Linked DNA regions of Homo sapiens. The gene in region 1 interacts genetically with each later gene. Each region holds a gene or a part of one and is shown on either strand. Other genes may lie near its edges. The genes, in order: FIGNL1 and SWSAP1.

The links.
Region 2: of FIGNL1 (region 1) and SWSAP1, a change in one rescues a mutant of the other (synthetic rescue), as found in Homo sapiens cells (one study listed by BioGRID).

What each region holds. Positions count from the first base shown.
Region 1 is NC_000007.14:50,443,599-50,447,612, forward strand, and holds the end of FIGNL1 (fidgetin-like protein 1), read right to left. Parts: intron 3,700-4,014; 5' UTR 3,690-3,699; coding exon 1,665-3,689; 3' UTR 535-1,664; downstream 1-534. UniProt on the Homo sapiens protein: Involved in DNA double-strand break (DBS) repair via homologous recombination (HR). Recruited at DSB sites independently of BRCA2, RAD51 and RAD51 paralogs in a H2AX-dependent manner. May regulate osteoblast proliferation and differentiation.
Region 2 is NC_000019.10:11,369,549-11,376,671, reverse strand, and holds SWSAP1 (ATPase SWSAP1), read right to left. Parts: upstream 2,007-7,123; 5' UTR 1,992-2,006; coding exon 1,743-1,991; intron 1,160-1,742; coding exon 656-1,159; 3' UTR 503-655; downstream 1-502. UniProt on the Homo sapiens protein: ATPase which is preferentially stimulated by single-stranded DNA and is involved in homologous recombination repair (HRR). Has a DNA-binding activity which is independent of its ATPase activity.

The DNA.
Region 1 (4,014 bases):
GGAGACTGAGGCACAAGAATCACTGGAACCCAGGAGGCAGAGGTTGCAGTGAGCTGAGATCACACCACTGCACTCCAGCCTAGGCAACACAGCGAGACTGTTTCAAAATAACCAAAACAAAACAAAAAATGAATTCTAATGAAAGACAATCACATATTACAAAGGGAAAAACTAAAAATTGCAACAATCTTTTAACATAAAAACAGAAGGCAAACCAAGAATAAAAATTTAAACTATATACACAAACTGTCTAAATTCAACAACTAAAAGTGTTTCAATTTGTCATTTCAAATTGCACTGTTCACAAGAGAAAACATTAGAACTTAAATATAACCTCCACGAGACCAAGGATATTTGTGTTGTTCATTGCTCTACGTTCACTACCTTCAGTTTTTTGAATAAATGCAAAAAGAATGCCAACAAATACCAAAACTGCCTACTGCCCAATGCTGCCATAGCTCTGATTCAGTGCAGATGGAGTTTTACACAGGAACTACTTTTTCAAGAGGACAATTTAGAATGCAAGCCAAAAGCTTTAAAAAGTGCATATTCTTTAATCCAGGAATTACTCAAGAAATTTATACATTTTTTAAAAAGATCACCAAATGCATCCCACATAGTTCCTTTACAATAAACAAAAGATAAACAACCTAGCGTCCTGTCCTATATGCGCTCTACCAGATGACTCAATTATATTCCATCCATCCATGGAATCCTAGACAATCATAAAAGGACATTTATGTTAACATGGAAAGTGAAGATACGCTTTGAAGAATAGGCTACAAGAGAGAATACATTACACAATCCTACTGCTGTATAAAACAAAACATCTGGAAGAATCTATGCTTAAATATTAATAGTGTGTCCCGCAAAGTGGTAGGATAATAGTGACTTTTATTCTTTTTACTTATCTCTATTTTCTCATGTTTCTGTAATGAACATGTTTCATAAAACAAAATGGGTCTGTTATAAAAATCTGAAAACTTGTTTTTGAAAGAGAGCAGTATTACAGGCTGTAGTGTCAAATAAAATATTAATGTTAAATATCACACGCTCCCGTGAAAATAACCAACATTCTTAATTAACCTTTCAGTTCTGTGAATCTAATACTAGATCACACCTTGCTATTTCTGAAAATGTTAGTCCTGATAAAAATTAAAAACCATAAAAGAGGTAACAAATTGGCTGAAGAAAGTAAAAATTGGCACTTTAGCTTTGAGATCTTAAATCTACTTAAATAACACTAAGCAATACTTTGTCCAAATGTAAACCATTATACTAGCTGACATTAAGAATTATGTGGCCATCAGAAGGCACTTTCTTCAATAAAAGATGAATATTAATCAGACACAACTTTATATGTAATCTTCAACTAAAAAAAATTTGAGCTCACTTTTCATGTTATATAGCTTCAAGATAAAGACTTCTTAGAAACAAAAGTTCATTCTCACTTTGTTCAAATAGGCTTACGTATCAGGTAATCACTGGAAAGCAAAACTTACATTAACATACACTATGTCAATCAGATGTAAAATCTGTGCTATTATTTGAAGTACAGAACTTAGAATATATTCTTAAAAATACAATTAACACATCCCCAACTTTCTATGCTAAAAAATAAAGAAGACTGTACTACAGAGATGCCTTGATTCCAAGTATCCCACTTACTTTCCACAACCAAAAGTTTTGTTCCAGTTTTCATAAAGCTCTAAATCTTTTGGAGAAACACTAGGTCGCACAGTTCTAAAAGCATTTTCAAAATCAATGTAAGCTATGGGTCGAACTTGATCCGGTGTTATGGTAGCAATGTCAGCAGTTTGTAAACTGCGAATAGGACCAAGAGAAGCCTCCCTGCAAAGCTGTGTCATGTCTGCTCCTGAAAACGCATCAGACTGCTGTACAATCTGTTCAATTTCTTCTTCACTGAGGCAACACTGCTCTTTGGACATTAGATTAATTACTATCTGTTTCCTGGCTGAAGCTTCTGGGAGGGGAATATAAAGCCTTTTCACCAATCTTCTCCGGGCAGCCTCATCAATTTCTTGTGGCCGATTTGTTGCTCCCACCACTAGGATACGATCTTCAGAAGATGTTGTTGCTCCATCTAATTGAACTAAAAATTCTGTTTTTATCCTTCTAGAAGATTCATGCTCACCATCTCCCCGTTGAGATAACAAGGAATCAATTTCGTCAATAAATATCACAGCTGGTTGCTGACACCTTGCAACAGCAAACAATGCACGGACCATTTTCTCCCCCTCACCTACCCATTTAGAAGTTAAGGATGAAGCAGAGATGCTAAAGAATGTTGCCCCAGACTGACTAGCAATGCACTTGCCAATTAGAGTTTTACCAGTCCCAGGAGGACCAAAGAGCAAAATTCCTTTAGGGGGTCCCCTTAAACCAGTAAAGATGTCTGGCCTCAACATGGGCCACACAACTATTTCCTTTATGGTGGCTTTAGCAAATTCTACTCCTGCAATATCTTCCCAATTTACTGGAGGTCCATGATCCATAATCTCATTCATAATAAGTTCAATCATCTTTGGCTCCAAGTTCTTCAGACGCTCATCAACTGGATGTGCTGGTTCTGTAGGTCCTGCCCCATAAGGCTTACATTGCATTCCTCCATTCTGCTCTCCCCCATCTTGCTTGGGTATAGGAGGAACAAACTTTCCAAGTATCCCTCGGGATCTACTAGCTCCTAGAGACTTTTTTACACCACCATATGAAGACCCTGATGCACGCTGAGGTTGGTGGTACTTTTTTTGCTGATCTACCCATAATTGTTCTTTTGCAGTTTTAAATGTAGGCAGGCTGCTATCCTCCTTTGGGCCATTATCTTCTGTTTTACTACAAGCCTTATTCAGTATTGGATTGGAAAGTGCATCAATGGTGCCAGAACCATAAAAAGACTTCCTCTGTGGATTTTCACAGGCAGCAGGAAAACAAGACTGGTTAGATAAGAACACATTAAGTCCTATGTTTTCTTTTGCAGAGCTGTGATTTTCCTTTTTGACATTTCCAAACAATGGTGTGACATGGAATTTTGCAGTAGCTGACTCACCTACAGGTGCTGAGAATGTAGGACAAGTCCTAGCAGTGTTAGTCACCATAGGTGGCTGGGCATTCTGAAGGAGTTTCAAACGATTGCTCTCCGGGAAGTCTTGGGTCCGGTCTCGATCATGAGCTGAGTTAGGTAATGAGTCACTCTCTTGAGAACTACCACAAACACTAAATTTAGGAAGATCAAAGACAGTGGCCTCCTTATGGATTACCACTGATGCAAGAGCAGGTTCCAACAGAGAGTCTTTGAATTTTTTGCCAGCTTGCATCATCTTCTGTACACTACTCATTTTGAAAACATTATTTATTGACAATCCAGACTGCCACTTGTCACTATCTGTTTGTTGAGATCCTGCCAAAGTTAAAATGTTTTCTGCATAATTATTCAACCCAGATTCAACATTGTCAGAATCAATAATTGCAGAATATTTCTCTGCATATTTTTTGAACAGTTTGGTAGCACAGACCTGGGAAATCTCAGAGTTTGCCCATGCATACTGAATGCGTAATATCTGTGCACGGTATGCATCTGCCTTCGGTCCGGTACATATGCCAGATGTAATTGCGAAGTAATTCTTCTGCCATTCACTCAGGTGCACAGATCTAGAGCTGGAGGTCTGCATTTTAGAGGTTCTATAACAAACAATAAAAATGAAAATCAGTATGAAGGAAAACAAAGAAAATACTTTAAATGTAATTTTGAAACTTCTGCTAATCTGAAGGAAGGGACACTGGACTTTTTATTTATAATGTAGATTTATAAGGACAGGTTATAAGAGAAATATCTAGTTAACTATAGATTTCAAGTATTCAAGACATATCAATATGAAGTCTTCAAAATTAAGGACTTGATTAAATAATAATTTATATGAGTTAAATTGTTCTAGTTACATAATTTTATCTGTAGGGAAAGCATTCATAAGGTTTAAAATTAATTTTAAATTTTAA
Region 2 (7,123 bases), on another chromosome or scaffold:
GTTCGCAGCAGTAAATAAGGCAATCTGATGAAGAAATCAGGGTATAGTCACCCATGGAATTATATGCAATATGGAAAAAGGAATGAACTAAAAAAATGTAGATGAATCTTAGTAACAACGTTGAGTGCAAAAAGAAGGAAGTCTCAAACTTTTTTTTTTTTTTTTTTTTGAGATGGAGTCTCGCTTTGTCACCCAGGCTGGAGTGTAGTGGCACAATCTCGGCTCACTGCAACCTCCGCTTCCTGGGTTCAAGCAATTCTCCTGCCTAAGCCTCCTGAGTAGCTGAGACTACAGGCACCTGCCACCACACCCAGCTAATTTTTTTTGTACTTTTAGTTGATACAGGGTTTCATCATGTTGGGCAGGCTGGTCTCCAACTCCTGACCTCTGGTGATCTGACCGCCTCAGCCTCCCAAAGTGCTGGGATTACAGGCGTGAGCCACCACGCCTGGCCTGAAGCTCTTTTTATAAAGTTTAAAGCAATGAAACTATAAACAACATATTGATTGGGTAAAATATATACAAGATAATGCTATACTTTTAAAAGAGAAAAAGCACTTTACATTGTTTAGGTCTTTGGATCTGCATATGTCCCTGAGGTAAGTATTCCAGCCATGGGAAACTGAAGCACAGAGAGGTAGTCACCCACCAAAGCTCAGGGCTGGCCTCCAGAGCTTGAACCCTTGCCTGAGCTGGGGTCACCAGCCTGGGTGGGCCACGGAGCGATCATCATTTCTCCATCTGATCGGAAAGTCACCCACCACTCTGTTCTGGGGCCCAGCCCGCCTGGCTCCAGGCAGGCTCGGAGGCCGTGCTCTCCTGGACCTGGTGCATCTGGCTGCAGCCAGCACTGGGCAGGAAAATACCGCTGGAGCAGTGCCAGGTGCAGGACGTCCCCACTACCTGCTTCCTCCTGGGTCTGGAGGGCCACCATGAGCCCACAATCCCGGCCAGGCCCAAGCCGGTGGCTGAAGTGGGCAGCTGTGTCTAGAAGTAAGGCAATGAGGTAGGCGGCTTCCTGGGGCTCTGGGTCTTCCGCTAGGTACTCTTCTAGGCCGTCGAGCAGCAGAAGGGAGGGGGCTGGCCCCGGGGCCTCATGGGCAGAGCACAGGAGCCGGAAAAGCTCTCGGGTTGAGGGTGGGTACTGGAAGCGGATCTTCTAGAAGGAGAAACAGAAGGAAAGGGCCGGATTCAGCACAGGAAGCCAGACTCCTTAAAAGTAACCCTGCCTCCTTGCATACTTTCCTTGGTTCCAGGATGAACCAGTTCAGAGCTGTTAAATATTCTTATATTCGCCCGTTTTTCCAGCACTCATCACTGCCGAGTATTAGTTGAGGGCAAGCCATTTTTGCTTGTTTGTTTTTGGCCAAATCTCTAGCGCAATTTTTCCACGGAAAACCCTCCCCCAGCATTCTCGGTCTGACCCCATCCTTGACACTAACAGGAACCAACTCAGGTCCAGAATGGACCCAAGCTTAGCCCCGCCCCTTGATGGGCCGGACTTCAATCTCTGGGCACCGCCTCTTGCTAACACCGCCCATCATTGGATGGGCTCTCACTTCAATCTTAACTAAGCTCCGCGTGGTGCCACTCCTCACTCCGCCTGCCTGACTCCGCCCCATCGTGGCTGCCCTGGCTCGCTCTTCCACCGTCCTCTCCATTGGCTTGTCTACCTGTTACTCAATATCCCGGATCTACTCCACCATTGGCTAGAACGCCTCTGCTCCCACCCCCACGGTTACCTGGAGTCGCATTGGGTCTAGAGTCGTTCCGGTCCCGCGGGGCATGCTTTGAAGAGGCCTTCGTGTCAGGAAGAGGACTGGGCCTTGGCCCTCCCCCGCCGCCTCTAGGGCCGCAGCAAATAGCAGCGCTGTTTTTCCAGATCCTGGTGTACCGAGCAGCAGCAAAGGCGGTCCGGCGGCAGGCATGTTCTCCTCCCCGGACCAGGCCGCACCGCCCCTGGTTAGCACCCGCCTCAGCGTCTCCGCCATTCGCCGCGTAGCTCTGACCAATCGGTGGCTCGTTCCCAGCCTTAGTCCCGCCCAAGCCGTGGCCGCATCGGTACAGTTCACTTAGTTTCTCTATTGGTCTAGGAATCTGTCCATCAAAACTCGATTCCTCAGGTGAATGGGCAAATGGTTAGAACCTATGCGGAGGAATGGGTGCATTCGAGGGAAATAAGACCCTTCCCTGAGGGAGGCTGCTGGGGGAACCAGCACGAATACTATTATTGTCAGCTAATCAGACAAATATAAGGGTTGAAAGTTGGAGGAGTAGACCAGAATGAGTGACATATTATTTAAAGGCTCCTAGCCTCAGTTTGCCCTGCTGTAAAATGGGGCTTATGATATCTCAGAGGAGTATTGTGATCGGCATGTATTTGTGTGTGGTTTTGCTGATGTCATCCAATGACAACTGAGAGTTTTGGAGAGGGGGATGAGCTGTGTGCTTGTCTTTCTGTGCACCTGAGTATGGGCCGGAGTGTGTGTCTGGGGACACAGGCTCGTGGACAAAACATCAACGGCCATCCCCGAAAGTCTGTGAGATGAAGCCTCTCAACTTACTTCCTCACTGGCTAAGGGGTTCTGTGGGGCCGCCTTTGTGGTACGGGGGGAAGGCAGGACCGCAGGACAAAGAAGGAAGCAGGAGAGATAAAGAGACAGGAGCTGGAAGACTGAAGGAGAGATACAGCAGGGACATTGTCTTGTTCACTTCTGTTCTCCAGTACCGAGAATAGCACCTAGCACATTTGTAGGTTCTCAAATACGTGCTCGTTAAGACAATGAAGGAAGGGAGGTGGGATTGATGAGAAACAGGGAGAAAGGGAGGAACAAAGTGAATGATCGTGATCCCTGGCTGGATCTTCTCACCCAGACTTCGCCCCAGAGCTGCCACTCACGCCTGTGTTGCCCTGGCAACCTTGTCTCCTGGTAACTCCAAAGTGGTGCCGTTGCCTGGAGACCCAGGGGCAGGGAGAAAGTGAGATTTCCTGGGCTTTCTCTCTCCCTCTGGGACCAGAAAACAGCTCCACGACATCCCCCAACACACCCACTCACACAGCTGGGCTCACTCACACCCCTCTACACACACACACACACACACACACACACCATGGCATCTCTGAATATATTCTACTTTCAGAATCCCCATCATCCACATGCTCCAACCTTGCCCTATCCTGACACAAAGCATCCCATACAAACTCTGTCCCACATTCATCCCCCACACCCTTTCTCTTGCAAAACACGCAACTATGACATTGCCACTACACACACAGACACACACAGTGAAGCACACCGATACACTGCGCTGTCAAACACGCCACCTCAGCCCCCATCCCCCAGCAGATATACAACGCATGATTCACCTCACATTTCAACACTCCAAATGCACATACAGGCCAGGTGTGGTGGCTTATGTCTGTAGTCCCAGTGCTTTGGGAGGCCAAGGCAAGAGGATTGCCTGAGGCCAAGAGTTCAAGACCAGCCTGGGCAATGTAGGGAGACCCCCATCTCTACAAAATACTTCAAAATTAGCCAGGTGTTGGCCGGGCGCGGTGGCTCACGCCTGTAATCCCAGCACTTTGGGAGGCCGAGGTGGGCAGATCACAAGGTCAGGAGATCAAGACCATCCTGGCTAACACGGTGAAACCCAGCCTCTACTAAAAATAGAAAAAAAAATTAGCCAGGCATGGTGGCAGGCGCCTGTAGTCTCAGCTGCTTGGGAGGCTGAGGCAGAAGAATGGCGTGAACCCGGGAGATGGAGCTTGCAGTGAGCCGAGATCGCGCCACTGCACTCCAGCCTGGGCGACAGAGCGAGACTCTGTCTCAAAAAAAAAAAAAAAAATTTAGCCAGGTGTGGTGGCGTGCACCTGTAGTCCCAGCTCCTTGGGAGTCTGAGGCAGGAGGATTGCTTGAGCCCAAGGAAGTCAAAGCTGCAGTGAGCAGTGATTGTGCCACTGCACTCCAGCCTGGGCAACATAGCGAGACCCTATCTCAACAAAAACAAACAAAAATGCACAAATACTCAGTAGTGACACCCACATCACAGAGTCCAGCACAGTTACATACATGGGAGCATGCTGAATACAGCCTCACCACAAGTCCTTTGCACTTGATGTTCTTGTGTGTGCAGCAGTCAGCTTCCAGATATCCTTCTGGCTTTTTTTTTTTTTTTTTTTTTTGAGATGGAGTTTTGCTCTTGTTGCCCAGGCTGGAGTGCAATGGTGCAATCTTGGCTCATCACAACCTCCGTCTCCCAGGTTCAAGTGATTTTCCTGCCTCAGCCTCCCAAGTAGCTGGGATTACAGGCATGTACCACCACGCCCGGCTGATTTTGTATTTTTGGTACAGACGGGGTTTCTCCGTGTTGGTCAGACTGGTCTCAAACTTCTGACCTCAGGTGATCTGCCCGCCTTGGCCTCCCAAAGTGCTGGGATTACAGGTGTGAGCCACCGAGTCCAGCCGACTTTTTTTTCCCTCCACTCTTTTTAGGTCTTTGGTCAAAATATCATCTACTCAGAGAGGCTTCCCCTGACTGCCTGCCCAAAATTGCACACATTTCACTCTTTAACTGATTATCTGTTTTTGTTGTTATTGTTGTTGTGTTGTTTTGTTTTTTCGAGACGGAGTCTCGCTCTGTCACCCAGGTTGGAGTGCAGTGGCGCGATCTCGGCTCACTGCAGCCTCTACCTCCCGGGTTCCGGCAATTCTCCTGCCTCAGCCTTCCGGGTAGCTTGGATTACAGGTACACACCACTATGCCCAGCTTATTTTTTTTTCTTTTGTATTTCTTTCAGTAGAGATGGGGTTTCACCATGTTGGCGAGGCTGGTCTCAAACTCCTGACCTCAGATGATCCGCCTGTCTTGGCCTCCCAGAGTGCCAGGATTATAGGCATGAGCCACTGTGTCTGGCCTGTCTTCACATCTTGACAGAAGAAGATTTACCATAGAGGAGAATCATGGAGGAATGTACCTGCCTGCAGGTAGGGTTGGACCTGGGGCTACAGGGTAGGAACTAGGTGGCTTGGGGTCACTCTGTGCCTATCCTTAGTTTACTGGCATCCTCAAGCAATAGTATCTACTATGTATCAGGGCCCATTCTAGTAACTGTAGACCCCACAGTGAACAGACAACAGATCAAATCTCTGTCCTGGTGGAGCGACATCCGAGTGAGGGAGACCTATAAAGACCCACTGAGCATCACGAGGAATTGAAACACTGTGAGCACATGACAAGCATAGGCAAAAAGACATTTGCACAAGGGACCGGGCACGGCGACTCACCCCTGTAATCCAAGCACTTTGGGAGGCTGAGGCGGGCGGATCACCTGATGTCGGGAGTTTGAGGCCAGCCTGACCAACATGGTGAAACCCCATCTCTACTAAAAATACACAAATTAGCTGGGCGGGGTGGGGCGCCTGTAATCACAGCTACTCAGGAGGCTGAGGCAGGAGAATCACTTGAACCCAGGAGGTGGAGGTTGCAGTGAGCTGAGATCGCACCATTGCATTCCAGCCTGGGTGACAGAGCAAGACTCCATCTCAAAAGAAAAAAAAAGAAAAGAAATTTGCACAAGGAAGGGAAGTTAGAAGGAAGGGCCAGTTGTTTTTTCAATTTTGAATAGGGTGGTTGGGTCAGGCTGGGAAGGCGACATTTGAGAAAAGGCCTGAGAGAGGTCAGGGTGTGAACTGTGCAAATATGCAGGGGAAGAACATTCTAGGTGGAGAATTCATTCAGTGCAAGGGCCCTGAGGCATTGGGAGAAAGTTGGCTTTTACTCGAGTCATGAGGAGACAGGAGAGAGCTCTGTGCCTGGGATAGTTGTGTTGTGACATTCTAAATCAGAGAGCTCTGTTTTAGTCAACTTGAGATTGAGATGCTGTGAGACCCACAGGGGCATGTTGAGAAGGCTTTTGATTTTTGTTGTCGTTGTTGTCGTTTTTTTATTTTTTGAGACCGAGTCTCGCACTGTCACCCAGGCTGGAGTGCAATGGTGCGATCTGGACTCACTGCAACCTCCGCCTCCCGGGTTCAAGTGATTTTCCTGCCTCAGCCTCCTGAGTAGCTGGGATTACAGGCGCATGCTGCCACTCCTGGCTAATTTTTGTAATTGTAGTAGAGATGGGGTTTCACTATGTTGGCCAATCTGGTCTTGAACTCCTGACCTCAGGTGATCTGCCACCTCAGCCTCTCTGAGTGCTGGGATTACAGGCGTGAGCCACTGCTCCAGGCCTAAACGCTTTACTTTTTAGAGAGCAGGGTCTTGCTACATTGCCTAGGCTGATCTCAAACTCCTGGGTTCAAGCAATCCTCCTACCTAGACCTCCCATAGTGTTGGGATTACAGGAATGAGCCACTTGTGCCCAGCTGAGAAGGCTTTCATTTTTTTTTTTTTTTTTGAGCTGGAGTTTCGCTTTTGTTGCCCAAGCTGGAGCGCAATGGCATGATCTCTGCTCACTGCAACCTCTGCCTCCTGGGTTCAAGCGATTCTCCTGCCTCAGCCTCCTGAGTAGCTGGGATTACAGGCGCATACCACCACGCTCAGCTAATTTTTTGTATTTTTAGTAGTAATGGTGTTTCACTATGTTAGCCAGGCTGGTCTCAAACCCCTGACCTCAAGTGATCCGCCTGGCTCGGCCTCCCAAAGTGCTGGGATTACAGGCGTGAGCCACCACGCCCAGCCAATCCCAAACAGGTACAAGCCAGCCTGTGTTCTCTAAGATCATCTATCCCAGTATGGGGGTTGGTGCAAGGCCAGGGCTGCTGTCACCACCCTCCTGAATGGGACCTGATTCTTCCCCCACTATTCCCATTGTTGGCCAGCGCTCTGCGTCAGCATCACAGACAGGGCCTGCTGGTTTGGGTGGTGGCGCTGTCCGTTGTGCTGAAGCTTTGCTTTCTTCCTGGCCCCAGTGGAGACAGCTGTGTGTCAGGAGAGACCACGGGTCTCAGGTGTATAAGCTCTGGAAACAGGAGCCTTGGTCAGTCAATCAGGGGGCCTCATGATGCTGTCTTTCCTCTGCCATCAGCTATCTGATGCTCTCATCTCATCCCCCCAGTGGCCCATGATCAGCTCCACCATCTCCTCAACTTCCCCACCGTCTCCCCAGCCTCCTTTTCTTC